Linked DNA regions of Homo sapiens. The protein of the gene in region 1 binds, or shares a complex with, the protein of each later gene. Each region holds a gene or a part of one and is shown in the gene's direction. Other genes may lie near its edges. The genes, in order: EXOSC1, EXOSC9, EXOSC6 and EXOSC7.

The links.
Region 2: EXOSC1 (region 1) and EXOSC9 share a complex: the UniProt entries of both Homo sapiens proteins name them as parts of the RNA exosome core complex.
Region 3: EXOSC1 (region 1) and EXOSC6 share a complex: the UniProt entries of both Homo sapiens proteins name them as parts of the RNA exosome core complex.
Region 4: EXOSC1 (region 1) and EXOSC7 share a complex: the UniProt entries of both Homo sapiens proteins name them as parts of the RNA exosome core complex.

What each region holds. Positions count from the first base shown.
Region 1 is NC_000010.11:97,442,219-97,451,569, reverse strand, and holds the start of EXOSC1 (exosome complex component CSL4), read left to right. Parts: upstream 1-5,563; 5' UTR 5,564-5,584; coding exon 5,585-5,615; intron 5,616-5,722; coding exon 5,723-5,838; exon of another isoform or gene 5,839-6,075; coding exon of another isoform or gene 6,076-6,117; intron 6,118-8,258; coding exon 8,259-8,333; intron 8,334-9,351. UniProt on the Homo sapiens protein: Non-catalytic component of the RNA exosome complex which has 3'->5' exoribonuclease activity and participates in a multitude of cellular RNA processing and degradation events.
Region 2 is NC_000004.12:121,795,563-121,804,322, forward strand, and holds the start of EXOSC9 (exosome complex component RRP45), read left to right. Parts: upstream 1-5,760; 5' UTR 5,761-5,862; coding exon 5,863-5,928; intron 5,929-6,264; coding exon 6,265-6,359; intron 6,360-7,111; coding exon 7,112-7,231; intron 7,232-7,352; coding exon 7,353-7,455; intron 7,456-8,760. UniProt on the Homo sapiens protein: Non-catalytic component of the RNA exosome complex which has 3'->5' exoribonuclease activity and participates in a multitude of cellular RNA processing and degradation events.
Region 3 is NC_000016.10:70,245,837-70,249,991, reverse strand, and holds the end of EXOSC6 (exosome complex component MTR3), read left to right. Parts: 3' UTR 1-3,214; downstream 3,215-4,155. UniProt on the Homo sapiens protein: Non-catalytic component of the RNA exosome complex which has 3'->5' exoribonuclease activity and participates in a multitude of cellular RNA processing and degradation events.
Region 4 is NC_000003.12:44,985,420-44,993,770, forward strand, and holds part of EXOSC7 (exosome complex component RRP42), read left to right. Parts: intron 1-3,720; coding exon 3,721-3,822; intron 3,823-4,130; coding exon 4,131-4,225; intron 4,226-8,351. UniProt on the Homo sapiens protein: Non-catalytic component of the RNA exosome complex which has 3'->5' exoribonuclease activity and participates in a multitude of cellular RNA processing and degradation events.

The sequences.
Region 1 (9,351 bases):
CTAAGACCCAGCTAGGCCAGTCACCAACTGTGAGAAGTAGGAAGGTTACTTCACTTTTCTACGGACTGACCAGTGCCAATGTTCCAACCAGATTAAGGGAGTAAAACTGATGGTTCTGAGCCTGCAGAAATTGTACTTAAATTACACCACATGGTTGCATAGCAAATCCAAGGTGATGCACACCTAAAGCAACAGGCCACAGGAAAGGGGTGAGAAAGGCCACTCCAAATCAAAGCAGTCTTAGGAGTTGTCTGTGTAGACAGACTTTTGGGTGGAGTGTGGCCAACATGGACAAAGCTGTCCACTGTGTCTCTGGGCATGGCCACTGTAGCAGAGATTGCCAGGGCTTCCTGACTGCCCTAGTGCATCAACCTACCTTCAGATGATTATTCCTCACCAAAGAACAGCCAATGGAAGAATGAGTACACAGAATGTGGATCCTGTACCGAGGTATTTCCTGGTGCTATTTAAGTCTTGGCAAAAGATACTCTTCTTCCTACTCCCTCTGGGCTGATGTCACAGGCTAGCCAACTCAACCTGGTAGCAGGAGATTCCCTGTCTCCTGTCAGGACAGCCAGCTACCCCTTGCATGACAGAAAATGCTTTGTCTCCAATTCCATTCCCAGCCCCACCCCAAGGAAATGGTAGCCAAGACAACTCCAGGTATTCTGAGCAGAACACAGGAAGGAGTCAATGGGAGGGGACCTCCATGTTGATTCATGAAGGCCTCGGGTCCTGACCTCTCTGATGGACTCCACTGCCCCAGTCTAATTAGACATTTAAGAACCTTCTCTGCAGCTGCTGCCTTAGCCCCAAGATACCCAACCAGACTTCCCAGTTCACTGCTTCTATGGCACCTCTGCCAGTGCCTCCATCTCCTCTATGCAGTTTCTACCTCATGCAACAGCCATGGGAAGAGATCGGCTGCCTGGGCAATGACCAGAACAGAAGACACAGATGCGCTAACAGATTCCTTCGATGACAGTTTCATCAGTTCTGCAGATTAAAGACTTTCACCAGAAAAAAAAATTACCTGATTTTGCCCTGAGGCAGCCAGGGAGGGCTTTGTCCTTGACAATCCCACTGACTTATTTAACAGGTAGCTCAAAACCCAACAGAAACTGGAGGAGGCTGCTCCACTGCAGGGATGGTTTCAATTCGGTAACTGGAGTATTGTACTCTCCTTGCACCCTGGCTCATCCCCACAAAAGACCTTTCAAAGAAAACACTTAATTACCTCCTTGCACAAGCCCTGTAAGCCCTAAGGTGAAAAGAAACTCAGCAGACAAGGTCCACAGAGAAGGAGAAGGCACAATTCAGTAGGGACCTACGCTCAGCACCAGGATAAAGAAACTGTCCATTCCTGCCACCTCCTAGGAAGCTAAAAGAATTAAGGGGAGGCCGGGCACGGTGGCTCACGCCTGTAATCCCAGCACTTTGGGAGGCCGAGGCGGGTGGATCATGAGGTCAGGAGATCGAGACCATCCTGGCTAACAAGGTGAAACCCCGTCTCTACTAAAAATACAAAAAATTAGCCGGGCGCGGTGGCGGGCGCCTGTAGTCCCAGCTACTCGGGAGGCTGAGGCAGGAGAATGGCGTGAACCCGGGAAGCGGAGCTTGCAGTGAGCCGAGATTGCGCCACTGCAGTCCGCAGTCCGGCCTGGGCGACAGAGCGAGACTCCGTCTCAAAAAAAAAAAAAAAAAAAAAGAATTAAGGGGAGTGTAGAAAAGAGAAAAAAAGGCCGGGCGCAGTGGCTCACGCCTGTACTCCCAACACTTTGGGAAGCCGAGGCAGGCGGATCACTTGAGGTCAGGAGTTTGAGACCAGCCTGGCCAACGTGGTGAAACACTGTCTCTACTGGAAATGCAAAAAAATAGCTGGGCATGGTGGCGCGTGCCTGTAATCCCTGCTACTTGGGAGCCTGAGGCAGGAGAATCGCTGAAACCCGGGAGGTGGAGGTTGCAGTGAGCCAAGATCGCGCCAGTGCACTCCAGCCTGGGAGACAGAGTGAGACTCCACCTCAAAAAAAATTAAAAGCTCACGCTCAAACTTCCACCCCTATTGTTTGGAAGCATGATTTGGCTTGTAGCATGAATTTTTAAAATAGTAGACACCCACAATCAAATGTAAGAGTGGGACAAAACAGATTACCCCACAACAAATCTAGGTGGCTTTTGGACTGTCCACACTGCTGTTCATTCCCTTTCTATAGGTCATGGAGAGTTTCCTATTTGCCAAAATACTTTTTGTAGCAATGGCATGCAAATCCAATGCACTCCTTGTTTGTAATAAACTCGAATTATATACTACCTCACACCTCTTCTAGTCTTAAAAAAAAAAAAAACTTCTATTCTCCACTTTTCAGATCATTCTTAAACATGTCCTAAATTCTTCAGCGCTGCAGGAAATGTCTGCCTCAAAGACCAGATTTACCCAATTCTTTAGGGTTCAATTCTGTCCCTAAGCAGTTCCGTAACCTCAGACAAATCATTCAACTCTACTGGGACTCAATCTCCTTGTGTTCACATTCAGTGAGGGAGTAGGATTAAATGCTAAGGTCCCTTCCAGCTCTAACCTTTTATGATTCTGTAACTATACAGATACAGTCAACCCCCATATCTGCGGAGGGATTGGTTCCAGTCCTCCCTTCAGATACCAAAATCCATGGATGCTCAAATCTGATATAAAATGGCATAGTGTTTGCATATAACCTATACGTATCTTCCCATATACTTTAAATCATTTCTAGATTACTCATAATACCTAATACAAAGTAAATGCTACACATAAACACTTTTTTTGTTTGTTTTTGAGATGAAGTCTCGCTCTGTTGCCCAGGCTGTAGTGCAGTGGCAAGATCTCGGCTCACTGCAACCTCCGCCTTCTGGGTTCAAGCAATTCTCCCTGCCTCAGCCTCCCAAGTAGCTGGGATTACAGGCACCTGCCACCTCGCCCAGCAAATGTTTGTATTTTTAGTAGAGACGGGGTTTCGCAATGTTGGCCAGGCTGGTCTTGAACTCCTGACCTCAGGTGATCTGTCTGCCTTGGCCTCCCAAAGTGCTGGGATTACAGGTGTGAGCGAACCACCATGCCCAGCTGCCCCCAAATATTTCCAATCCATGGTTGGATTGGATCAGCAATGTGAAACCCACAGGTATGAAGAGCAAACTTCTTTGGTAAGTGTAAATGAAATGTTTATAAAGCACTTAGCACAATACCCGGCTCATGGAAGTACTCAATAAATATTTGTTGAATGAATGACCTGGAGGGATGCAGAAGTGGAAAGCCTGGCCAGATGTCTATCTGTCCTACAAATACCAGCAAGGACACTCCTGCCAATGTGGTAACACTAAATAAGTGTCTGCTGTTATCATTCTTCCTGATTCATAAAGAGAGAAATACAAACTGTTATTAAAATCATGGCACTTAGGAGCTAGAAGTCGTTTTTGAAAACAAGCCCAACCAGAAATCAGCCCAACCGTGTAAACAGAAAGCTCCTAGACGCACAGATACAGATTTGGGTGAACAAAGTCTGAGGCTAGGGCCTCTCTCCATTAGCTAATGGGGTATGGGATGCCAGGAAAATTACATATGTAGTAAGTGGGCCGCAACTGAACACACAGACTTTTCTTTTTTTTTTTTTTTGAGATGGAGTTTCACTCTTGTTGCCCAGGCTGGAGTGCAATGGCACAATCTGGGCTCACCACAACCTCCGCCTCCTGGGTTCAAGCAATTCTCCTGCCTCAGCCTCCTGAGTGGCTGGGATTCCAGGCATGTGCCACCACGCCTGGCTAATTTTGTATTTTTTTAGTAGAGACCGGGTTTCTCCATGTTGGTCAGGCTGGTCTCAAACTCCCGACCTCAGGTGATGTGCTTGCCTCAGCCTCCCAAAGTGCTGGGATTGCAGGCGTGAGCCACCGCACCTGGCCCAGACTTTTCATCTCAAGAAATAGAAGTAAAGCAAAATTCAAAAAGATGTGTGTAGGGGAGAAGGGGCTAATCTCAGTGAACGGGAGGAAACAGAGCAAAGCGCAGCTTTACTACCACCCCAAGCACAAGCCCGAGTACTCTGATCCTTCAGTAATAGTCACAGGCCATACTGGTCATCTGCCACCAGACTGGAGGAGATTGCTGGCCACAACACTCCCCTCTTCCCATGGCTTTAAGTCACATCTGTTTCCCAATGGGAAAGTCGACTGAGGGGACAGGGAAGGACAGACGGCAAAGCCATCAGAAGTCAGGTGAACTGAGATCAAAGTCGTGGCGAATGTCATCTGGACAAAGACGCTGCTCTCAGGATGTTTGCAATCTCAAGTAGGAGATACCCAACATCAATAAAGAGTAGCATTTTATTCATGTGCAGACCTCCCTTCTGGGCTAACACGCTGAGAAGAAAAAGAGTAACAACTTTATTTTGGGGCTGCTTATCTTTTGATGACGGGCCCACACAACCAGAGTTCGGCTTTTTCAACCAGAGAAAGCTTACTGAAGTGGGGATGAGGGGCCGCGAAGAGGATCGGACCGCAGGACTGGAAGCTGCAGTTTAAAAAACCGGGAAAAGGCCGGAGGCAGTGGCTCATGCCTGTACTCCCTGCACTTTGGAAGGCCGAGGCGGGCGGATCAAGAGATCAAGACCATCCTGGCTAACATGGTGAAACCCCGTCACTACTAAAACTACAAAAATTAGCTGGGCGTGGTGGCGCGCGCCTGTAAGTCCCAGCTGCGCGGGAGGCTGAGGCAGGAGAATCGCTTGATGCCGGGAGGCGGAGGTTGCAGTGAACAGAGATCGCTCCACTGCACTCCAGCCTGGCGACAGAGCGAGACTCCTCAAAAACAAAACAAAAAAACCGGGAAAAGGTTTTATTTCTCAATGACAGCCGCGAGGTGAAACTGCGATGGACTGGAAGTCAAAAACCGTGGGTTCCAGTTTGGGCTCTATCTTAACTATCTTGATCATTTTGGACAAGTCAAACCCTGTCTCTGAATCTGAGGTTCCATATCTGTGAAACAGACGAGTTGGGTCGCTTGACCTCCTTCCCTCCTGCTCTGAGCGTAACGATTGCTCGGAAGGTGCGCTCGGGCTGAGGAGGGCACGGCCCCGCAGGGCGGGGCGAGGAGAGAGCAGGAACCCGCACTCAAGACAAGGCCCCAGGGCAGTGCCCTACCCAGAAAAAGGGACTAGGATGGGGAGCAAGGGCCGAGGCTTCGCCCTTACCTGCCGCCTGCCGACTCCCCAGTCAGCCAAACCGAGCCCCGTAGCCTCTGCCGCCGCTCACTGCCACCCCCTCCGACTCGGCGCCCCGGCCGGGCCCGGCTCAATCCAAACCACCATGGCCCGCCGCCCGCAGCGCCAGGCAGCGGACCCGGACCCGCCGCCAGCCCATCCTCAACCACACGCGCAGGCGCCAGCGTGGACCTCTGAAGTTCCGCCCCCGGATTTGTCCCGGGGTAACCTGGGAAATGGAGTTTACTCGCAAGGATAAAGAGTACCAATTGACACGTGTCTTACTGCGGAACTGTGCCTGGGTTTGGCCAATGAGAAATCGACTTCGTTTTCATCCTGGTTTTGGGACAGCGGCAATCATGGCGCCACCTGTGAGATACTGCATCCCCGGTAAGTGAGCGCTTCCCGTACAGAGTCCTGGATAGGGGCTGAAGCAAGAAGGCTAAACGGCCTACAGCTTCTGGGGGCCCGTGACCGATGCAGCATTTTTTCTGCAGGCGAACGTCTGTGTAACTTGGAGGAGGGCAGCCCGGGCAGCGGCACCTACACCCGCCACGGCTACATCTTTTCGTCGCTTGCCGGCTGTCTGATGAAGAGCAGCGAGAATGGCGCGGTAAAGGAAGCGGCATGCCATCTCCCCTCTGTTTTTCCCTTAGGCTGCCCTTGAGTTCCAGTCCTTAGGCATGGGCACTGCGGACGCGTCTTTAGTGCCTCAGTGGTACAATGTTGGTCTCTTAGTTTCTTCTAGCCGTATCGCCGCTGTGGTGCACTTAGCCACCACACACTAGTTGTGTTGATCTCGCTTGGTTGTGCTGCTGACCCTCGGGGAGGGAAGTTGGGACAAAAGCAGATGCGAACTCAGTATCCCATCCCAGCCCAGCTCAGCCCAGCAGTGAGTTGCATACTGTATGAATGTTGCTTACCTTTCCGACTTTATCTAGCGCCACTATCTCCACCTCACTGACGCAATCTAGTCATACTGTCTTTTCTGTGTTTAAAAGTTATAATCACAGTCTCTGCTTGCCCTTTAAAAATTTTTTATAACATACTAGCTTCTTTCAGTGTCGGTAATGCGCCAAGCTTTCTCCTGCTACAGAGCCTTTGTAACATGCCATCTATCTGGAACGCTTCTATCTTCCTAGGCCTATTTAATTCCTACCTCCTTTAGATAGCTTCTCTACTATCACCTCAGAGAAGTCCTTCTGGACCCACTAATTGAGGAAAGGAGTTTTGTGGGGTGTTTTGTTTTTGTTTGTTTTGTTAAAGACTCACAAAAAACTCTGTTCCTTTTCTTCCAAGCACTATGTCAGCATATGATGAGACACTCAGGTATATGTTTCCTACTAGACTTCTCCCCTGCTTAAATCTAAGTCCGTGAAAGCAGGCCCTACCACCATACCATCCGTATATAGCACAAGGCAGCTCCTCAATAAATGTTGAATGTGTGAGTAATACCTACCTTTCTAGTTTCAGAGATAGATCCAGGATTAGCTCAGGATCATATAAGCAATATTTGAAGGAGCACAATAGAAAGAGGATTCAGAATTAGAACAGTTACGTTCTGGCTAACTTGACTTTGATTCTGCTTTGAGTAAGTAACTTAAGCTGTCTGATTCAAGGGGCTTTCTATTCAGTCATTGTTGGGAATGTTCTTAACAGTCCTGAGTTTGTTCATTTCATAGATATCACTTGAGTATTTTCATGTGTCAGGCACAGCGCTGACTTGGTTTCTGCTATCAAAGGACACAGACACAAATTGTAAACAAATAAATGCTCAAATGAGCATATGGTTACATATGTGGTGGTGCTTTGAAAGAATATTACAGGGCACCTTGAGAACATGTAACAGGCAAACCCATCCTAGTCAGCAGAAGTGACATTTAAGCTGAATCATCTAAAGAGTAGGTAAGAGTCAGGTGGGTGGAGAGAGTGCAGCTCTGGCAGAAAGAATAGGTTGAAGAGAGATCTGAAAGTGGGAAGAATTTAGTAAGTTGGGGAAACTGAAAGAAGGCCAGGAGAGCTGAAGCATTGTGAGCAACGGAGAGATTGATAAAAGATGAGGCTCAAAATATCTGTCTTATACCAACAGCCAATACCATGCTCAAAGAGAAAACTCTGCAAGTATTCACTTAAAATAGAAGAAAACAAGCATAGCCGCTATTATGTAACATTTTTGTGGAAATTTCAGCCTGTGCAATAAAATAAGAAACAGAAGGAAGCAGTATAACTTTGGAGGAAAGAGTAAATTGTCGGCAGGGCGCAGTGGCTCACACCTGTAATCCCAGCACTTTGGGAAGCCAAGGCAGGTGGATCACCTGAGGTCAGGAGTTCGAGACCAGCCTGGCCAACATGGTGAAACCCCATCTCTACTAAAAATACAAAAAATTACCCGAGCATGGTGACAGGCTTCTGTAATCCCAGCTACTCGGGAGGCTGAGGCAGGAGAATCACTTGAACCCAGGAGGTGGAGGTTGCAGTGAACCAAGATGGCACCCTTGCACTCCATCCTAGGCAACAAGAGTGAAACTCCATTTCAAAAAAAAACAAAAAAAGTAAAATTGTCAATGATTATAGGCAATATAGTTGTATACCAAGAAATTCTGAGAGAATCACCAAAAAACTTATTAGAAGTTTAGAGATTTACTACAAAAAAAAGTAGCTGGGCATGGTGGCGGGTGCCTGTAGTCCCAGCTACTCGGGAGGCTGAGGCAGGAGAATGGCGTGAACCCGGGAAGTGGACCTTGCAGTGAGCCGAGATCGTGCCACTGCACTCCAGTCTAGGCGACAGAGCAAGACTCCGTCTCCAACAACAAAAAAAGAAGTTTAGAGATGTATGTCTTCTAGCAGCATTCTGTAGCCTCCTGGTCCTCCTATTTCCTAAAATTTCTAAGGCCTTCTGCTCTGGGCTATAAATGAATCCATACTCCAACTCTCACCTTTATACCAAGACATTCCTATATTACTCTCAAGCCACAAATGCCTTGACCCAAGGGTTAGTCAGGACATTTCAGTTTTTTGTTGTTCCCTCTGTAGCTTCCAGTGGTGTCTGTAGTGAGAGAAACAGAGTCCCAGTTACTGCCAGATGTGGGAGCTATTGTAACCTGTAAGGTAAGTTGGTCCTGACCTCCATGCTTAGAATGCCCATTCAATACTGAAATCATGACCATACCAGAACTGCAGTGTCCAGTATGATAGCCACAAGCTACATAAATTTATTTCTGGCAGGGCACAGTGGCTCACACTGGTAATTCTAGCACTTTAAGAGGCCGAGGCAGGAGGATTGCTTCAGCCCAGAGTTCAAGACCAGCCTGGGAAACATAGTGAAACCTCATCTCTACAAAAAGAATCAAAAATTGCCGGGCATGGTGGCTCATGCTTGTAATCCCAGCACTTTGGGAGGCCGAGGTGGGCAGATCACCTGTGGTCAGGAGTTCAAGACCAGCCTGGCCAATCATGGCCAACATGGTGAAACCCTGTCTCTACCAAAAATACAAAAATTAGCTTAGCGTGGTGGTGCATGCCTGTAATCCCAGCTACTCGGGAGGCTGAGGCAGGAGAAGTGCTTGAACCCAGGAGGTGGAGGTTGCAGTGAGCCTGCGTCACAGCAGTCCAGCCTGGGCAACAGAGTGAGACTCCGTCTCAAAAAAAAAGAAGAAGAAGAATAAAAAATTAGCCAGGCATGGTAGCACATGCTTGTGGTCCCAACTACTTGGGAGGCTGAAGCAGGAAGATCGCTTGGGCCCAGGGGGTTGAGGCTGCAGTGAGCCATGATCACTCCAGCTTGGGTAACAGGGCAAGACTCTGTCTCTCAAGAAAAAAATAAAATTGATTTCCTTAGTCACATTAGCCACATTTCAAGTACTCAATAGCCACTTGTGGCTAGTGGTTGCTATACTGGTCAGCACATGACTTTTCTGTCATCACAGAAAGTTTTACTGGACTGTGCAGGCTTACAGATTTCTAGGATAATAATCAAGGCAGCCAAGTTCAGGCATGCATAGTTCCTTCACTGAGCTGATTCCCTGAATACATAGTTCTACCTGTGTCTGGGAAACAGGGATGCCAGAGGATGATTAGGAGGCCTATTTTTGAACATCTGAAGCTGAGTTCTTTTTCTGCAGAGAAG
Region 2 (8,760 bases), on another chromosome or scaffold:
GACTGTCATTACAAGACTTACTACTGTCACTACTTGAGACTGTCATTACGAGACTGAACGAAAACGGACGCATGCAGAAATGAAAACTTAAAACAAAAGAAACTGTTTTAAAGGAAGGGACCAGGGGAAAAAGAAGAGGGCTCCTTGCTTCTAGTGAGCAAAGGCAGCAGCCCCTGAGCTTCTGCAGCCCTTCGTATTTATCGGGTAGAAAGAGCAGGGAGAAGGAGGTAACAATTGGTCAGCTGCTTGATTGATCACAGGTTCACGTTATTGCTAACAGGCTTCACATGTGCCTAACCACAAGAAACACCTGTGCCTGGGTTGTGACTCCCCTCAGCATTCCTTCTGGGCGGCAGATGCAGTTTGTCAGTTTGCCAACATCCTGCTTTCATGAGAAACAGTTTGCTGTTTACTCATATAGCCTTCAGTTGTATGCTGAGTTGATCATGACCCTCATTCTTTTGGCCTTCAACATATGCCCTGCCAAAAGGATTCAAATATTGTTAAAACTCTTTGAGAGAAAAACAAAACACAGCTTGCTAGCCTGTTTAGTTCCTCTCTCATAACCTCTATCACCCTCAATCCATCCAAATAAACTCTCATTCTAAGTAAACGCAGTGTGATTACCAAGCAAATGCAGCCTTCTGAGTTCTTCAGTCCCTTTCGGCCAGATTACTGATCCTAAACTCTTCCTATTTATAAATTCCAAAAGGTCTACTGAACAGAAATCATCTTTATCCAAACTCTTGCCACTTTTAAATGTGATCCACTGCCCAGCAGCATCAGCATCACCAGAGAGCCAGTTAAAAATGCAAATTTCCAGGTCTCTCTCTCCTGCCTCCTTCTTGGGCTCACCCAGCTAATCCAGGATAACCTCCCCATTTGAAAACCCATAACTTAATCACTGCTGCAAAATAACTTTTGCCATATAAGGCAACATATTCACAGTTTCCAGAGATTGGAATGTGGAAATCTTTAAAAGAGGCCATTGTTTTGCTTACTATACAACACTATAAGTTATTTACATGACAATTAGTTTAATTCACAATAGCAAATTCCACTTATTTTATTTGTAGAAAACTAAGTGACAACTTTTCTAGATCATATTTATTGCTTAGACATTAAACAATATAATTTCCTACAGATTTCTATCGATGAGCATGAATCTTCTTTTAATAGATGAGAACAAATCCAAGGGCATCAGTGATGTGTCCAAGATAGAGCCATATGCATAATCTAAGTGAAATGAAAATGTCCCTTCCCTGAATTATCTTCTAATTTGTTGTATTTTTGATAAGCTGAAAATGGATAATTTTTTATTCCTCTAAATACATTGTAAAGCCTTAATAATAATAATATAGCTTCCTGGACATAACAAATGATATAATCAGAGTCAAAGGAAAAGCTCTTTTCAATATCCAAGGAAGCTAGAGATGGACTGGATAATCTAATGGACTTAAAAATCTATAATTCCCATAAAACATATGCGAGGGAAATTTGCACTACATTTTTTTTTTTTGAGACGAAGTCTCACTCTGTAGCCGAGGCTGGAGTGCAGTGGCGCGATCTCGGCTCACTGCAAGCTCCGCCTCCCGGGTTCACGCCATTCTCCTGCCTCAGCATCCTGAGTAGCTGGGACTACAGGCACCTGCCACTACGCCCGGCTAATTTTTTTCGTATTTTTAGTAGAGATGGGATTTCACCATGTTAGCCAGGATGGTCTCAATCTCCTGACCTTGTGATCCACTCGCCTCAGCCTCCCAAAGTGCTAGGATTACAGGCGTGAGCCACCGCGCCAGGCCTGCACTATATTTGACATATTCAGTTGTCAATACATAAAATCTTTTCAACATATTAACTGATAAGTGGTTTCCCGTTTGAATCTTGAAAAAAAACAAAACAAATGTCTTTGTTAAAATGTAGTTGAAAGTCAAAATTCCCTTAAATAAAAAAATTAGCTAAGTATGGCCAAACAATAAAAAGAAAACATAACACCTTTTTACTTTTTACTTTTTCTGATAATAAAAGCTATTCACATGCCTTACAGAAGATTTGGAAAGTTCATAAAGAAAAAATAGCAAAATGAAATAAAAACCTTTTCCCAAAATCCTATCACTCAGAGATAACCATTTTTAATATTTCATATTATACCCTTCCAGGATAACTTTTGGTACACCAAATTCTATACAGACAAATTGTACAGCAGATATATGGTAAATAAAATGGTAAGCTTTCATTTGTTCACTCATCCACCCATTTTTTTCTTTTTTTTGAGATGGAGTCTCACTCTGTCATCCAGGCTGGAGTGCAGTGGCACAATCTCAGCTCACTGCAACCTCTGCCTCCCAGGTTCAAGTGATTCTCCAGCCTCAGCCTCCCGAGTAGCTGGGATTACAGGTGTGGGCCACCATGCCTGGCTAATTTTTGTATTTTTAGTAGAGACAGGGTTTCACCATGTTGGTCAGGCTGGTCTCGAACTCCTGAACTCAAGTGATCTGCCCACCTTGACCTCCCAAAGTACTGAGATTACAGGCATGAGCCACTGTGCCCAGCCTTTTTTTATTTTTGAGATGGATTCTTGCTCTATTGTTCAGGCTGGAGTGCAGTGGTACAATCTCAGTTCACTGCAACCTCCATCTTTTGGGTTCAAGCGATTCTCCAGCCTCAGCCTCCTGAGTAGCTGCGATTACAGGTGTGTGCCACCATGCCCAGCTAATTTTTGTATTTTTAGTGGAGACGGGGGTTTCACCATGTTGGCCAGGCTGGTCTCAAACTCCTGACCTCAAGTGATCTGGCTGCTTTGGCCTCCTAAAGTGCTGGGATTACAGGCGTGAGCCACCGCACCTGGCCTCCACCCATTAATTCTTTCACCAGATGTGCTAAGTAGGCCATTCATCCTTTGATTCACAAGGTACACTACCAGTCTCAGTGGGTGCTACAAAGGTGAAGAAGACATAGACTTTATACTCTAGTAGAAATGTACTAGAATTCCTTCGGACACACTTTTACAAAGACCAACTCAAATGTATTGGCTCACTAGAATCGCATGGGGTCAGGAAAGGGCATTTCTCCAAGAAATAGAAGGCTGCTGGTCAGACAAAGCAACTGATGTTCAATAAAGAGAATGCACACTCAAATAGTTTGTTGAGAACTAGGTTATTTTTAGACAGATCATCCAGATTAATATGCTGATTCCAACTGATTCTTCTTTTAAGAACAGAAGGTGAGGCCAGGTGCGGTGGCTCACTCCTGTAATCCCAGCACTTTGGGAGGCCAAGGTGGGCGAATCACCTGAAATCAGGAGTTTGAAACCAGCCGGACCAACATGGTGAAACCCCATCTCTACTAAAAATACAAAAATTAGCCAGGCGTTGTGGTGCATGCCTGTAGTCCCAGCTACTTGGGAGGCTGAGGCAGGAGAATTACTTTAACCTGGGAGGTGGAGGTTGCAGTGAGCCAAGATCATGCCACTGCACTCCAGCCTGGGTGACAGAGTGAGACTCTCTCAAAAAAGAAAAAAAAAATAATAGAATGTATCACATTACCTGACACATTATCTGAACCTCTTCTTAACCTTCCAAACTTATTTTTCCCTGAAATCATGAAACAAATTTTCCTTTGGCATTCAAAAATTTCTTATAAACACAAGGTTGTAAAGTACATATATTTTAGGATGGTATGTAGATGTAAGTGGAGATGGGTCATACACCTTTGGATTAACTCGAAAATAAAAAGACAAAAGCAAGAGTGTTTAAATTAGAATATAAAAGTGAAAGTAGAAAAGAACAGTGGAAATTCAACAAAAGTGGAAGGAAAGCAAAGTAATCAAGCAGCAGTTTCAGAAAAGCAATCTGTCATGCTGAGTTTGGGCAGTTTCATGGGAAGCCTTTGCCAACCCAACAAGAAAGGAGGAAACTAACATTTGAATAGCTATCATGTCCAAAATGTTTCATCAGATGCTTTCATTCAGACCACTTAACACAGAATAATTGTTATTTCCAATCTGAAGATACAGAACCCCCAAATCAGAAAGAATATTTAGCTCACTCCAAGTTCATTTGAGCTGAACTTTATCTGAAGCCAAAGTCCATTCTCTTTCCATTACCAAGCTGCCTTGCAGTAAATAACAGGCTATTTCAACAAAGGTCTATTTCATCGCTGAAGGGAAAAATTACCAAATGGCCACTGAAAGAACTCAAGGATTTAAATGAAGAACTTATCAACCAGGAGTTCTGGTATGAAACTGTACTATAAAAATGAATTCATGTTGCTAAAGAACTTAAGTGGTTAGTACCCTGTAATCCCCTTGCCGATTTTGAAAATTAATCATTTCTGTCCACTTTCCTCCTTCTTCACAATTTCTCTCTCCAGACCATGTGGAGCTCATCTCATCTCAGTTTTTGCATATGTTACTCTTTCTGCTTGAAACACTTTTCCTCTCCAGATGGCATCAAGGGTGCTCCTGCTCAACACCAAAGATTTACTTTACTTTAATGTCACCGCTACAAAGTCACCTGTTCCTGCAACTACCCCTATTAAGATAGCATTCCTATTCTCAGAGAGCACTTAACACTGTATGAAATTGTTCTATTTGTTTAGGGTTTTTTGCCTTTTCCAAAAAGAATATAAATTCCTTGAAAGGATCTTGTCTACCCTGTTTCTCCAGCACTTAAATTATTCTTGGACAGAGTAGGCCCTCTTCAAGTATTTATTGAGTACATGGATTGCAAGTGGTACAAAGTGAGACTAAAATGTATCACTGGTAGAAAAAACTTGTGAGAAGCTACCAAAGAAGCCAGAGAAAGACTGCGTAGGAGTTACAGTGCCTACCACCTCTAAAGCAAAAGGAAACAAAATAATAATATGCAAACACTTAAATAGTGCTTATTCCATGCCAGGCACTGTTCTAAACATTTTATGTATATATTAACTCATTTTTATTCCTCAGAATAAATAGGTTTCTCACTTCCCCTGCTTTGTTTTTGTTTTTGTTTTTTTTTTGCCGGTGAGTAATGTGAAGCACACAGGTTAACTTGCCCAGGGTTATAGTAGTTAATGATAGCCTTAAAATTTGAACCCTGGCAGTGAACACTTTTTAAAACTACTATTTGATACTGCCTCTCCAAAAAAGCTGAGTGGTTGGCAGCATGGCCCCGCTAAGGCTTCTCTGTGACCGTAAAAAAAAGTCTATCGACTTAAAATAACTGGAGAGGGGATAAGAAATAAACGGTGCATTTACTTTCAGTCCACAGTAGTAGTAACATCGTTAGTTACTACGTGCGAACATTCTCCATTCTCATCAACTTCTCAGATCCCACAAGATTTCACCTTTGGCCACAAAAACATCCCATTTCACCAATTTATCTTTCTCCCCCAACCCTTATGCCGCCTCATTCCAGTGTTTGTTCATTTAATCTGCTCCAAATCCTGCATCTGCGGCTTTCCAGGGACCAATGTCAACTCATCTGTGAAATTGCAGAAGTACATGTCTAGTCTCCACCCCGTGAGAGGACTGAGCAAAGGGTGAAGTGTGCGAGCGGTCTACTGATAATAATTTCTATCACTCTCATGGTTATTTTAAGTATCCTTTTCTCCTCTGCACTTTATGAGAAAAGAAACGGAACTTCACGTTCAGAAACGGCCTCCCAAAGCCGCAATGGCTTCTCGCAGCTCGCTGGCCTTCCCCAATCACGCTTTGAGTCTGCGCAGTAGCTGCAGCCCAAGCCATTTCCCATTTTTCCGCCGCCGCGCCTTGATGACGTAATTTTCCTGCGCCTCGGGGCGAGCAGCGGCGCGCAAGGAAAGATCGGGTTCCGTTTTTCCCGCGGATTCTGGTGCCTGTGGGGCCGGTGACCCAACACCATGAAGGAAACGCCACTCTCAAACTGCGAACGCCGCTTCCTACTCCGTGCCATCGAAGAGAAGAAGGTATGGTTTGGTGCCCGCAGAATTGCGCGCTGCGTGGGCGCTCGGGTCTCAAGGTGTGGACTGATACCTGGCCCGCCTGGGCCCGGGGAGCTACTAGGGGAACGACCGGCACGTTCACCCCATCCCTCAGGCTTTATTTATTTTTTTTCGACAGGTTCTTTTCAAGGCTCCAGTCACCGCAGCAGTTGTCCATGCTGTAGTTTCCACTTTCCTGTATGGGCGGGCTGGTTAGGATTCCACTTTCCCCCAAGTGCTTAGCCCAGGGCCAGACAAAAAGTAGTTGCTTAAGAAATACTTGTTGAAGGAATAAATTAATGAATGAATTTGTGCTTACAGCGGCTGGATGGCAGACAAACCTATGATTATAGGAACATCAGGATCTCATTTGGAACAGATTACGGATGCTGCATTGTGGAACTTGGAAAAACAAGGTAACAGGATTTAAATGAGATACACATTCGGAAGGGAGAAGTTTGAAAAAAGACCTTATTGACTTGGTTGTTTATAAAGCAGCTAAGAAGTCTGGACAGTATTCTTTGTTTAGCTGACAAAAATAAGTATTTTTTTATGCGAGATTTTTTGCTTTTGTGGTCACACTTGAACTTTTTAATCATAAACGTATTTTCTGTCACGTATCACATAGTTCTTTTCTGACTTCTATAAATCGTATAGACAACTAGTAGTGATCATATGGAATTTGTTTCTCACACTAATATAGAGATCTTGAGCATCTTGTCATTAAGTGTACATCCTGCTTTCTTTTTCCTGAGTGACATGAAAATTAGGTTTTCAGATATTCATTTGAAAGTTGTGAGGCTATTTGGTCACATAATGGTGGTGAACTATGCCATGTGAAAACCTTTAAGAAATCTCAGGTTTTCATGCCATCTTGTATCAATAAATACTTGCTTTAGAGGTAAAGGTCACTGATTTTTAAAACAATCTGTGGAATAGTAAACATTGTAATAAGAAGAGAGGTGTTTTTTCTGTCGTGTTTTTAGTTGTACCAATTTATGTTTTATTTCTGTGTATATTATACTTTACATATAATTTTTATCTCCTATGATTTATTTGGCTGAGTATGATATTACTCACATTAAGATTGAAACTTGTTATCTGTTTCAGTTTTTTGTTTTGGAAGGAGAGTCTATTTGGTTAATACTTTGTAACTTTATCTTTGCAGAGTTCTTGGACAGGTTTCCTGTGAACTTGTGTCTCCAAAACTCAATCGGGCAACAGAAGGTATTCTTTTTTTTAACCTTGAACTCTCTCAGATGGCCGCTCCAGCTTTCGAACCTGGCAGGTATTTAAATCTTTTTCTTAAGTTGCTTTAGTCATAGGAGAACCTAACAGCAGTGAGCTTTTGTTTTAATACCTGGTGTTATATTTCATGACATTAGCCCATTCCTATTTTCTCCTTATAGGCAGTCAGATCTCTTGGTGAAGTTGAATCGACTCATGGAAAGATGTCTAAGAAATTCGAAGTGTATAGACACTGAGTCTCTCTGTGTTGTTGCTGGTGAAAAGGTGGGGAATATGCCCATAATTCTTAATCTTAGGATGAATACTGTTGATCATGGATCCCGGTATCTATCCTTTTATTCTCAGAACTTTAGTTAACTCAGTATTGTACTGGTTTGCTTCACTTCAGATGTTCTTGAGTGATACCCTTAGAACTTTGTGCTACCTCTCTCTCTCTGAAGGGACAAAAAGGGTGTCCCTTCAGAGGACACCCTTTTTCTTAAAGGTTTCTAAAAGGTTTTCACCCTTTATCTTAAAAGGGTGAAAATAGCAACTTAGATTTTTGTGTAAAAATATTTTATTCAAAGAACTTGTGGCTTTTTCATATAATCTCTCATTTTCTACATGAGTTCATAGAAGCAGGTAGTTTTCCTTTTTCATGCAGAACTCAAGAACAGATGAAATCCTTCATTTGGATAGGTTTATCGATTTACACAGGGCCACACCATGTCAGTGGCAGGGATAACTTTGAAAATCTTAGTCCCAATAAATTGTGCTGCATTAGGATATTAGAATTTTATTTTATTTTATTTTGTTTTATTTTTTTGAGATAGAGTCTCACTCTGTTGCCCAGGCTGGAGTGCAGTGGTGCAATCTCAGCTCACTGCAACCTCTGCCTCCCCTGTTCAAGCGATTCTCCCACTCAGCTTTCCGAGCAGCTGGAACTACCGGCGCCTGCCACCACGCCCGGCTAATTTTTGTATTTTTAGTAGAGATGGGGTTTCACCAGCAGGCTAGTCTTGAACTCCAGACCTCAAGTGATTCACCTGCCTTGGCCTCCCAAAGTGCTGGGATTACAGGCGTGAGCTACTGTGCCTGGCCAGAATTTGATTCTTGATTAGGGTATTTTGACAAGCATTTTCATCCCAGAGAAGTCATTTAGCTTCCCATATTCCATACCTAAGCATAATACTTCCTATTTGCATTACTTGTAAGGTTATTAAAAATATCACAAAACCTAAAAGTTTAATTTTTTTTAATTTTTGAAAACTTTCATTATTTTCTCTGAGGGACAGGGTGACACTCTCGTCCAGGCCGGAGTACAGTGGTGTCATTATAGCTCACTGTAATCTTAAACTCCTGGGCTCAAGAGATCCTCTCTCCTTAGCCTCCCGAATAGCTAGGACTATAGGCGCGTGCCACTCCACCCAGCTAACTAAAAAACTTTTTTTTTTTTTTTTTTGTAGAGATAGGGTCTTGCTGTGTTGCTCAGGCTGGTCTCGAACTCCTAGGCTAAAGCAGTTCTGCCACCTTGACCTCCCAAAGTGCTGGGATTACAGGTGTAAGCCACTGTGCCTGGCCTAGAGTTTG
Region 3 (4,155 bases), on another chromosome or scaffold:
ATGGAGAATAGCAGCTTTTTATTTTTTTATATTTATTTTTTGAGACAGAGTCTCACTCTGTTGCCCAGGCTGGAGTGCAATGGCGCGATCTCAGCTCACTGCAACCTCCGCCTCAGAGGTTCAAGTGATTCTCCTGCCTCAGCCTCTGGAATAGCTGGGACTACAGGCACCTGCCACCACACCCAGCTAACTTTTTGTATTTTTAGAGAAGATGGGGTTTCATCATGTTGGCCAAGCTGGTCTCAAACTCCTGATCTCAGTGATCCATCTGCCTCAGCCTCCCAAAGTTATAAGATTTTTTTCCTCTGGTTTTTAGTAAATGTTTTTTTTGAGATTGCTTAGCACCAGAATGATTTGCAAATTTGAAAATAGGAACTCCACTAGGAATGCCGGATAGAAGAGTGCTTCACATTTGTAGAGGGAGACAAGAACTAAATATCACGACGTCTTTCTGAGCCTTTTGGTTTGCTAACGTGCCCCAAATTCTTATTCCAAACGGTATAAGATAATTATGTGTAAATGAATACCAGCTCTACTTAGTTTTATTTCATATTTGTGTATCTGAATATATTAAAATATCTTTTTTTTTTTTTTGATGCGGAGTCTTGCTCTGTTGTCCAGCCTGGAGTGCAGTGGCATGATCTCGGCTCACTGCAACCTCTGCCTCCCAGGTTCAAGCGATTCTCCTGCCTCAGCCTCCTAAGTAGCTGGTATTACAGGAGTGTGCCATTAGCCTGGCTAATTTTTGTATTTTTAGTAGAGATGGATTTTCATTGTGTTGGCCATGCTGGTCTTGAACTCCTGACCTCAAGTGATCCTCCTGCCTTGGCCTCCCAAAGTACTGTGATTACTATCATGAGCCACCACACCTGGCCTAAAAGATCATTGATTTAGTTTTGAGTAAGATTTTAAGTGATTAAATTATGGTATTGTTGTGTCTGGAATATCTGATATTAGGGTTTTTTTTTTTTTTTTTTACAGTTTTTGATATGCTTTATTTTGGGTATGTAGTTTACAAAATATAAAGGAAATATAAGGAGTGTTCTCTTTTTTTTTTAAATAAAAAGTGTATTTTTAACTGGGCATGGTGGCTCACTCCTGTAACCCCAGCACTGTGGGAGGCTGAGGCTGGTGAATCGCCTGAGTCCAGGAGTTTGAGACCAGCCTGGGCAACAAGGTGAAACCCTGTTTCTATCAAAAAAAAAAAAAAAAAAAAAAAAGGAAAAAAAATAAGTCAGGCATGGTGGTATGCACCTGTAGTCCCAGCTACTTGAAGGCTGAGGCAGGAGGATCGCTTGTGCCTGGGAGGTTGAAGCTACAGTGAGCTATGGTCAAGCTACTGCACTCCATTATAGGCAACCCTATCTCAAAAAAGCAAAGCAAAACAAAACATTTTTCCCCTTGATTATAGAGGTTTGAGAAAAATTTGAGGGAAGATTCAGAAAATTACCTGTAACTGAACAGAATGCCACCAGCTTGGGCTTATTCTGCATGCATAATTATGAACATTTTCCCAGCTCTTGTGAAAATTCTCACATTCATAGAAAGATAGATGCACCAGTAAAATAAATACCTGTAAATACGATAATAATTTCATAATAATATGCTTCACCTAGATTTACCAGTTACTAATATTTTGCCAGTTTTATTTTCTCACACACTTTTGTTGAGCATCTGAAAACCATACACATGATGACAGTTCAACCCATAATGTTTTAGTTTGCATCTCCCAAGAATAAGGTTTTTCTTCTGTATAACAAGAATATTGTAATCATACCTAAGAAAATGAATTTTATTACATATGTGTTCTATATTCAAATTTCTGTAATTACCCCTAAGATGTCTTTTAAATGATTTTTAGCATTGATAGTCTGTGCCTGTGTAGATTATAACATTGGCTATTGCAAAATAATGGTTTTCTTTTTCTCTTTTTTTTTGAGACGAAATCTTGCTCTATTGTCCAAGCTGGAGGGCAGTGGCACAATCTCGGCTCACTGCAACCTCCGCCTCCCAGGTTCAAGCAGTTCTCATGCTTCACCCTCCTGAGTAGCTGGGATTACAGGCAGGTGCCACTGTGCTCTGCTAATTTTTATATTTTTAGTAGAGACGGAGTTTCATCGAGCTGGCCAGACTGGTCTTGAACTCCTGACCTCAAGTGATCCACCTGCCTCGTCCTCCCAAAGTGCTGGGGTTACAGGTGTGAGCCACTGCACCCAGCCTAAAATGATGGTTTTCTGATTCTAGCATTTCTTTTATAAGATTGCTATGTAAAGCACAGCTTTTCTTTTTTTAGGGAAAAATGTCTTTTAACAGCTGCAAAATAAATATTCTTTCAATGGAATGACAATTATTATTTTTGCCATATATTTATTTTAAAAATTTATGTATAATGGTAACCTGAGCCTGCATGTTATTCATGTGTGGTGCCATACTGATCTTTAATTTTAATGTGAAGCAAGTACTAATATAGTAAAGCATAAATTATATAAAATTTGCTTTATATTTTGGATTGCAAATTAATTGCTGTACTTTATAGAAAAGTTTCCCAAATCCGTTTTACTTTTTTGTATTTGAAATTTAATCACAGGTGGAATCTTAAAGAGAGCATTTAGGGATATTGTAAACAGATGTTATTAAGGACTAATGTTAACAAACATTGAAGAAGAGAAAACAGTATTTGTTTTTAGCTTAACATCTTAGTGGAGTGAAATATTTTCAGTATATTTATTTTATTTATTTATTAATTATTTTTTTTTTTGAGATGGAGTCTGGCTGTATTGTCCAGGCTGGAGTGCAGCGGTGCAATCTCAGCTCACTGCAACCTCTGCCTCCTGGGTTCAAGCGATTCTTGTGTCTCAGCCTCCCGAGTAGTTGGGATTTACAAGTCAATTTTTTTTTTAACTAAAACTACAGAATCTATTTTTCTTGGTCTCATACTCAGTTTTTTATGTAGTCACTTAGTAAATAACCTAATTTGCTTGTTTTCTCCACACTAATTTTAGGGTGAATTCCTCATTTCGCTTTTCAGATCATGGGGTGAGGGGGATGGTTGTGTGTGTGAGGAACTGAGGAATCAGATGGAAAACAATGCCTCTGCTCCTTTGAGTATAATCAGTGATATTTGAGGTTCCAGGGTTAAATGCTGCATTTTTATTTCTGACGTTCGTACCTTAAAATATTTGAAGAAAATAAACTATTTCATTGTTGTCAGAAATGTAGTTCTTTTATTTTCCTGCCCCTCTCCCCTTTCTAAGTTTCTAGAATGTTGAGTAGGTAGAACATAGATGCTCCTTTTAGGATCTTTTGCTGTGGAATGGTCCACAGGTGAATGGCAGTAATATCTTAAAATGATTGGCCCCCTCTCTCTTTGTTTCCATCAAGGATACAGTTGATATATTAGTTGGATGGCATATAGATCATACTCAGAAACCTTCGCTCACGCAGCAGGTATCTGGTAAGTCTTGCAGCCTATACCAGTTATTTAAATACTGTCGGGGAGGAGCAGTGGTCCCCCAGTGACCATCTATCAATAACATTTCTTTAATAATGCAAGAAAACTAATTCAGAGAAATGTTATATTGTAAATGAACATTACTTGTTAGCTAAATATATATTTTCAGAAGAAATTACTAGTAGGTGGGTAGAATAAGTACAGACAGGACTTACCCAAGTTATTTGTAGTTTGTACTGGTAGGAAAAAGTATATGGTAAGAATATATTGCAGTGGCAATACCCTGAAGTGGACAATGGAAGATCCAAGTTATTTGTAACATTTTATTGTTTTTCTGGTTATTTTTTTAAAAAAGGAAATAGGGTTAATTTGGAGAATTGTCATAAATGAGAAATGGTTTTGTTTCCCATTTTTTTGGAGTTAAGTGAATGACTAGCATGGCTCATTTGCACATTTCAGCTTGTTTCAAGTGTCATAGTTTCTCGTAACTTACTTGGTGTAATAAACTTTTGAAAATAGGATATTCAGGTGATAGTGGTCTGTTTCATTTTCACTGAGGAGATAAGTATACACCTTTAATGGTTAGATGTGGCCCTGGGATTAGCCAGGCCAATGGTAGATTGTGGCATTTTAGTGTTAAGTCATGTGTAGTGACAATATAGATAGGAAATTTACTGAAAAAGTAAGGAAATAACATTTACATG
Region 4 (8,351 bases), on another chromosome or scaffold:
GAGTTGTTCCTTCTGATGTTCAGATGTGCTCGGAGTTTCTTCCTTCTGGTGGGTTCGTGGTCTCGCTGGCTCAGGAGTGAAGCTGCAGACCTTCATGGTGAGTGTTACAGCTCTTAAGGCGGCACACCTGGAGTTGTTCATTCCTCCCGAGGTGGGTTCGTGGTCTCGCTGGCTTCAGGAGTGAAGCTGCAGACCTTCGCGGTGAGTGTTACAGCTCATAAAGGCAGTGTGGACCCAAAGAGTGAGCAGTAGCAAGATTTATTGCAAAGAGCGAAAGAACAAAGCTTCCACAGTGTGGAAGGGGACCCAAGCGGGTTGCCACTGCTGGCTCTGGCAGCTTGCTTTTATTCTCTTATCTGGCCCCACCCACATTCTGCTGATTGGTCCATTTTACAGAGAGCCGAGTGGTCTGTTAGACAGGGTGCTGATTGGTGCGTTTACAATCCCTGAGCTAGACACAAAGGTTCTCCACCTCCCCAGTAGATTAGCTAGATACAGAGTGTAGACACAAAGGTTCTCCAAGTCCCCACCAGAGTAGCTAGATACAGAGTGCTGATTGGTGTATTTACAATCTCTTAGCTAGACATAGAGGTTCTCCAAGTCCCCATCAGACTCAGGAGCCCGGCTGGCTTCAACCAGTGGATCCTGCACTGGGGCCGCAGGTGGAGCTGCCTGCCAGTCCCCTGCCATGCACCCGCATTCCTCAGCCCTTGGGTGGTCGATGGGACTGGGCGCCGTGGAGCAGGGGGCAGCGCTCCTTGGGGAGGTTGGGGCCACACAGGAGCACCCATGGGTGGGGGTGGGAGGGCGGGGAGGCTCCCGCATGGCAGGCTGCAGATCCGGAGCCCTGCCCCGTGGGAAGGCAGCTAAGGCCCAGCAAGAAATTGAGCACAGCAGCTGCTGGCCCAGGTGCTAAGCCCCTCACTGCCTGGGGCCAGCTGGCTGCTCCAGAGTATGGGGCCCGCCTAGCCCACACCCACCCGCTGAGCCCATGCCCACCCAGAACTCGCGCTGGCCCGCAAGCACTGCCCGCAGCCCTGGTTCCCACCCACGCCTCTCCCTCCACACCTCCCAGCAAGCTGAGGGAGCCGGCTCCCACCTTGGCCAGCCCAGAAAGGGGCTCCCGCAGTGCAGCGGCGGGCTGAAGGGCTCCTCAAGTGCTGCCAAAGTGGGAGCCCAGGCAGAGGAGGTGCCGAGAGCAAGCGAGGGCTGTGAGGGCTGCCAGCACGCTGTCACCTCTCAATATCTTCCAGGGAGGAAAGGTGCTGGGGGAAGGATGGGCTGCACAGGACCTTCCACCTGATTTGTGATGTTTATTTTCTGTCATTGAAAAGTTAAACGGGTGAAAGACCTGAAGCAAGTATGGCAGAGGGTGATCATTGGTACTGTGTGGTGCTGCAGTGTTTTGCTTTTTTCTGTTTAATTTCTCAAAAAAGTCAGTCACATATGCAGTTAGCCAGGCAGTTTAAAGATAAACTGTCAGTCACATACTTTAGAGCAGTGTTTTATTTTATTTTTTATGTTTCTGGGAAGCATCAACTCCTTGGAGAATCTGATTAAGCTAATGATTCTTTTTCTGAAAAAAACTGCTTTTGAAAAATGTTTACAAAGAATGAGAAGGAGCTCCATGAGCCAACGTGGAATGATTTCCTGCATATATATAGTTAAGTGTTAAAAAAAAAAAAAAAAGTAAGAGTATCTATAGTATTCCACCCTTCATATAAGAAACAAGGAGATATTAAAAAATTCATGTATTTGCTTATTTGTGCAGAGAAAATACAAGAAAGATAAACCTGAAACTGAAGAGAAACCTAGGGTGAATGGGAAGAAAGGGGCATGAAAATAGCATAATACGGAGGAGAGTGACATTTCTCTGAGCATACTTTTCTGAGTTTTCTCTCAGAACTATAGTGATAGCTCACAAACTCAGAAAGTAAATAAGTAATTAAAAGTAACCATGATGTGGGGGAACCCAAAATGGAAAACAAAAATTTACAAATGAAAATTAGCCAGGCATGGTGATGTGCCTGTAATTCCAGCTACTTCAGAGGCTGAGGCGGGAGAAGCGCTTGAACGCAGGTGGCGGAGGTTGCAGTGAGCTGTGCCACACTGCACTCCAGCCTGGGCGACAGAGCCATAGTCTAAAAAAAAAGTTACAAGTTACAAATGAGCCTGTGTTACAAGTGAGTAATGTAACCACACTGAAGGGCACGTAGAAGAAAAGAACTGAAGTAACTGGAAAACAGTATTTTGCCTGGATACTCTGAGGCTAAAGACAGAACTTTACACAAATACTGTGTGCTATTAGTAAATTTGTTTCTCACAGGGGTATGGGTTAGAAGTTCAGAAACTGTGTATACTAAGATTGAACAAATACAGAAATACATGTTAGATAATAAGAGCCAGCTTTCTCCTTCTTTGAGAAAGAAGTTACAAATAAGAAACAGAGGAAGGTTAGAATGAACCATGTGATGTTAGATTGGAATTGATCTATCAGTATGAACTCTTGGCTTTTTAATAGATATGTAGATAGATACAGAATTAAACAGATTTGTGTGTGTGTGGTGGGGGTGGTTAGTATACATAACTGTATTTTCTAGCTCTGTCTGCTGAGAAGTTCTGGAAGAAATAATACTCCAACAGCAATGAACTTAGAGCCTAGTTCCTGGTTTTAAGTACCATTCCCCAATAAAAGCAACCAGGGCTCCTTGGAGAAAGGCTTGATCCCTAGGGCTGGGCAGAGAAGACACAAGAGGATAGATATCTTGTGTTGCAGAAAGTAGATAATTACTCAAAAAGTTGGAGGCATGTTGAAAGAGCACAAAAACTAACCCAAAGAAGCCCCCAGTGGCCAAATTTGGAACACTTTGAGCAGCAAAATAACTAATGATAGTAGTGGATTATAACCATAGCATAAAAGATACCAATGAGTTGTACTGATACAAGTAATTGAAGGAGTAAATAAATGGGCAGAAGGAACAGGCAGCGCGTAGACCACCCTGAAAACCATCTTCTGCCAAAAGAGTCAGCAAACTTCCTGTAAAGGACTGGATAGTAAAGATTTGGGGCCTTATGGGTCATATCTCTGGCCCAACCACTCAGCTCTGCTTTTGTAGTGCAGAAACAATCATAGACATTACCTAAACAAGTGGGCATGGCTATGTTCCAGTAAAACTTATTTACAAAAACAAGGGACCTTAGTTTGTTGACCCTGTTCTAGAGACTGCCTCTTTAGAAGATTAGGTGTCTTTCACTATTTACACAGTAGATCTTGTTGAGTTTTAGGGGTAGGAGGGCTTCAGTTGAGATGATTGTACTCTGTAGCTCTGACAACATATACTTCTTGGTGCAATTTAAGAATTGCAGATTTAGAGAGAGGTGGCTTATTTTGTCTCTTGTTCAGATCTTGTTTTTGTGTGCATATTCTATATAGTGGTATGTAGTATAGATTTTGCAATCAGACACAACTGGCATGGAAAACTAGCTTTGTTTTCACTAGCTGTAGGACCTTGGACAAGTCGCTCAACTTCTCTGAGTCTCCATTTCCTCATATGTAAAATAGTAATGTTGTTGTTAGCTACAAGGACAGAATTTTAGATGATCCACTAAGAGGAAAAGAGATATTCTGCATATATCTTCTCTAGGGGGAAAATGGGTGAGTCCGTTTAGGAGTTATTGTTGATCTGGGGTGACTATAGGACTGTGGTTGTTAACACCTAGGAAGACCTCCGTGTGGATGGCCGTGGCTGTGAGGACTACCGATGTGTCGAAGTGGAAACTGATGTGGTGTCCAACACTAGTGGGTCCGCCAGGGTCAAGCTGGTGAGTACTGTGACCATGGTTCAAGCCCAGGTGGAGAAATGAGTAGGCCCTAAGGAATGAGCTGCTGACGCTGTCTGGCTTTTGGAATGCAAATTGCTCTTGGGGAAATCGAAGATCCGAGCCAAACTCAGGGAGGGGGGGTCTATCCAGATCTGAAAAGACTGCTCACCTCCTCCAAAGACCACTTTCCAAGTCTTAGCACTGCTCCTAAAAGAGTCCCCCAGGGGTGTATGTCCAGAAGAGGAGGGAGGTGGTGGAGTACCTGGCTGCATACTCTGAGTGAGGACTCTTCTTGCATGTGTCTGCAGGGTCACACAGACATCTTGGTGGGAGTGAAAGCAGAAATGGGGACGCCGAAGCTGGAGAAACCAAATGAAGGCTACTTGGAGTTCTTTGTTGACTGGTCAGTACTGTCTATGCAGATATTTCTAAAGATAAATGATTTTAAAGATGAAGATTCAGAAAATGAACCTCTGGTTTGCTGTTGAACCCACTTTTATACTTATCATTCAGCCATCCAGCAGGCATTTGCTGACCTCCTCCTATGTGCCAGGTACATAGTCAGGACTCTTGGCTTGAGTCCTGCCCTAGTCTTAACCACCTGGCTATTGCTGGCCTTGTTTTCCCTGTCCGATAAAGGAGGACATTTGCCAGGCAGCCTAGCACATGATTGTGATGAGGGTCAAATGAAATGATTGTGTTATGGTGCTTTGAAAAATATACACAGTAAGGATCATTTGGTCTAAAATGTGCTGTTTCTCTTCCTACTCTAGTTCTGCAGAAAACTGTTCATGATTTGCTTGACAGATGAAGCCTAGGGTCAGCCAAGCAGCCTGACAGGCTGAGGAAGTGGCAGCTAGGCAGGCAGTATGGGTGCTGAGAAGAGAGAGGGCTCTGCAGTGTCTGCAGCCAGCCTTGGGCCAGAATGTCACTTCCTTCTCTGGCCAGCTTTGTGATCTCAGGCTGGTTACTCAGTCTCACTGTGGCCAAATTTCTTCATCTAAAAAATGAGGATAATAAATAATACCATGGTGATGAAGAGGAAATGAATAGAGTGAGTACCTAGCACAGTGACTGACTTCCAGTGGGCTTTCAATAAGTGTTATTTCTCCTTATTTTGTCAATAAGTTCAATAAGTATTATTAGCTCCACATTCTAGGGGTCGGGGCTTTTTATTTGGTTGCTGGCCAGGTCCCGTCTTCTATCAATTACTTTGCTTCTGGAAGCCAGGCCTTCTTGAAGTGGGTAAGGATCTCTGTGGGCTCATGCTGGGTGTAGGTATATAATGTTGACCCTGTATCAAGATCCCCAAGACCACCTCCACATTCAGAGATTTGCTAGACTTAGCATATAGTGATACTCACAGCTAAGGTTTATTACAGCAGTGAAAATGCAGTAACTTATTTGTGACATTTCTGCCCAGGAAAGCCCATTAGAGACTCAGCACCCAAGATTTTTACTGGGAGCTGGTCACATAGACACTCGATGCTTAATACATAATGAAGTTTTCTAAAGGAAAGCAAATGTTCAGCATAAATCATATTATTTGCACAATATAGGCACAGTGGACTACCCCCATCAGTTTACTATTGCCTGGGAGCCAGGTTCCCGGATGCCAGCCAAGGGCCAACCCTGCAAACAGACCCTTCTGAAAATAGCACCTTTGGACTGCAATGGCAGCCCTTTTTTGCACAAATGTTAACCCACTTTTGTAGGGTGAGTTACAGTCTTCCAGTCTGAACTTCCATACACGGAAGCTGATTCTCATAGTACTCGTATAAGAGAAATGACAAATGAGTTCAGAGAGAGTAAGTGACTACCCCAGGGTTACAAAGCTAAAAATGCCAGCTCAGGTCTGTCCAACCTGTGAATCTTTGCTCATTTTACTTCATGCAGCCTATGGAAGCCAGCTTTGGAGGGCTGCTCTTGGGGAGTCCAAGAACTATCCATGTTCATTTTTCTGGTCAGTTTTTTTTCCAGCCCATTCCTGTCCCCTACTCTGGTCCCCCAAGTCGTCTCTCCTGGTTCTGCTCATCTTCTCTCACCAGCCTGAGTTGTCCCATGGAATTGGCCCATCCTTTAAGTCACTGTGGATGATGGTGACCTTGTTCAAGCCCCCAACTTATCTTTTCCTTTGTTCTTGGAGGAAGCAGAATGCCTCTGGTGGCCTTGATCTGCCTAATTCAATGCAGTAAGCAGTCACTGAGGAGCAGACAATGTGTGAGGAACTGTAATTTGCTTTCTTTTTCATCTCCTTCATTACCTTCTACCTCATTCATTTTAGGCAGACCAAAGACATTCAGCCCAACCACACCAAAGAGAGGGTGTTGCCCTCAGATGCTTGGTATAGGGGATACGTTTCATTGTGGCTCTGTGTCTAAATATGACTCCAAGTTAGCCTGCTGCTCTTATCCCTTTCTTGTCCCAGCTGTAAAGGATGAGTGACTCTAGTGTGAGAGGATTCTTTGAGTTGCCTCTTCCCAAGATCTGGCTTCTAGAAGTAGCCTATCTTTCCTGGCTTAGAGTGGCTGCCTGCTGGTCTCTTTTCCTCCTCTGTGGGTCTCAAAAGGATCCCCACAGGCCCAAGAGCTCCAGTATCTAGGTAGTTCTCCTGAATTGATTTCTCAAGATGGACAGTCTCAAAGTGGCACACTTTACCTTCTTTAAGTGGCTCAGCTAATGTAATCAGCCGGGCAAGTAGAATCACCATGAGAGAGTCACAAAACCCCATTTCCTACAGAGATGGGAGAGGTTACCAAGCACTGATCGCTGCCACCTGTATCAGAACCTCAATTGAGTCTTCAAGGAGCATAATTATTTTAATTGCATAAACAAGTGTGTCCTTTTATTCTGAATCAGTGAATAGGAATGGCTTCTGGACACCCGTGGATGTGCCCAGCAATAAGGGTGCCACACACCCACTCCCACCTGGACTCCAGGCATAGGGCCTCTGCTGGAGAGCTCAAGGCATTTGCCTATCCACAGGCTGAAACATAGTTGCTGCCCAGTGGAAGGAAATAAATTGGTGGTGATGGTGGTGGTGATGGTGGTGAGGGTTTCTTCTGCTGCTCTGAGTCTAGTTTGATTTAACTTCTTGTTAGCAACTTCCAGTTTTAATTAAATTGCCAGGGGTAGAGAGGTCTCAGAAAACTAATTGATTTTCTGCCAACCCATTTCACTTGGTTTTGTCTACTTGGGATGATAATACATGGAGCCAAGATAGACACTGTCGCCACCTCCATAATTTACCCTGTTTCTTGGGAATGACGAAAAATCTTTGATATAGCCCTCACAGCCCTTTGGAAAGACTGCTGCACTGACCCTGAGCCCTGTTCCAGAGATGCCTGGCAGCACTGTCACTAAACTGGGAGCAAAATCTGACCTTTTCATGTCTTTGGTTTGCTGGTTGTAGCTGAGAGTAGGCTATTTTAAATGAGAATTTGGAAACTTTAGGAAAAGGTGGTTTCTATCTAAAGCCCAAAGGAAGGGAAGATTTTAGTGAGCTGGTGTGTCACCCTGCGCTGCCACTAGGCGGCGAGCCATCAAGTTGCTTCTCAGTTCTCCGACCATTGTGTTGATGGGTTTAGGACTGTGGTTTAACCTCTTAGAGAGGCTTGGGTTTTTAACTAGGGGAGTTTAGGAGAACATTTTTCATTCATAAATGTTTCAGAATACTCCGCACTTGTCACTTCCCTTTGGGATCTTAACTATTTTTCAATGTGAACACTTGTATTTTTCACTAAAATTGAACCAGAATCTTCAAGCCTGCATTGGTGGTTGGAGTCACTATATCTGGGTTCCTTGCCTGCTTAGTGCTGCTAAAGGGGACACTGTTCCTGGCTGAGGGGCTGGGGGTGGGTACAAAGCAGAGAGGCAACCTGCAGAAGCCTTTTGAGGCTAATTGTAATCAAAGTCTCCCAAGCTGATGAGATAACTCTCGCAGACACTTCAAACAAAGGCTTGTGATGAAAACCTCAGAATATACTTACTATTGGTCTGGTACCCATTTACAGGGAGGCTTCTACAGGCTCAGACATGAGCACATGTACACTCAGAGGAATCAGCCTTAGGGCCTGTGTTGGGGCTAGATGACTACTGGAGGGGTAAGGCCCAGGTCAGCCCTGCCTAGGTACCCACTAGATCACTTTTTCTGCTGTGGGCCTGGCCTGACCTGGACGTAAGACTTCATAGATTTGTAGGCTAGATTGATTGCCAGGCAAGCAACAGTGGGCCCAGTGTCTAGAGTCCCTTTCCAGGTAGGCATGGCCTTGATCTCAGCCTACCCCAGTTAAACCAGAGATGTTCCAAGCAGGAGGGTAGAGGTGATGAGTCAGAAGGGGTGGAGAGCTGGGAGGGGTAGCATTCCCAGGATCTTAATTAGTTTATCCAGCTCAGTAAACAATTTCCCACAACTCTGGAAGAGGGACTGGTCATGCTTTATGAAGGGTCAGAATTGGTTTTGGTAAATGCAGAAAGCATTTGGTTTTATGCCCAAAAGACCAAGTGTGTACACCCCCCACTGAAGGAGT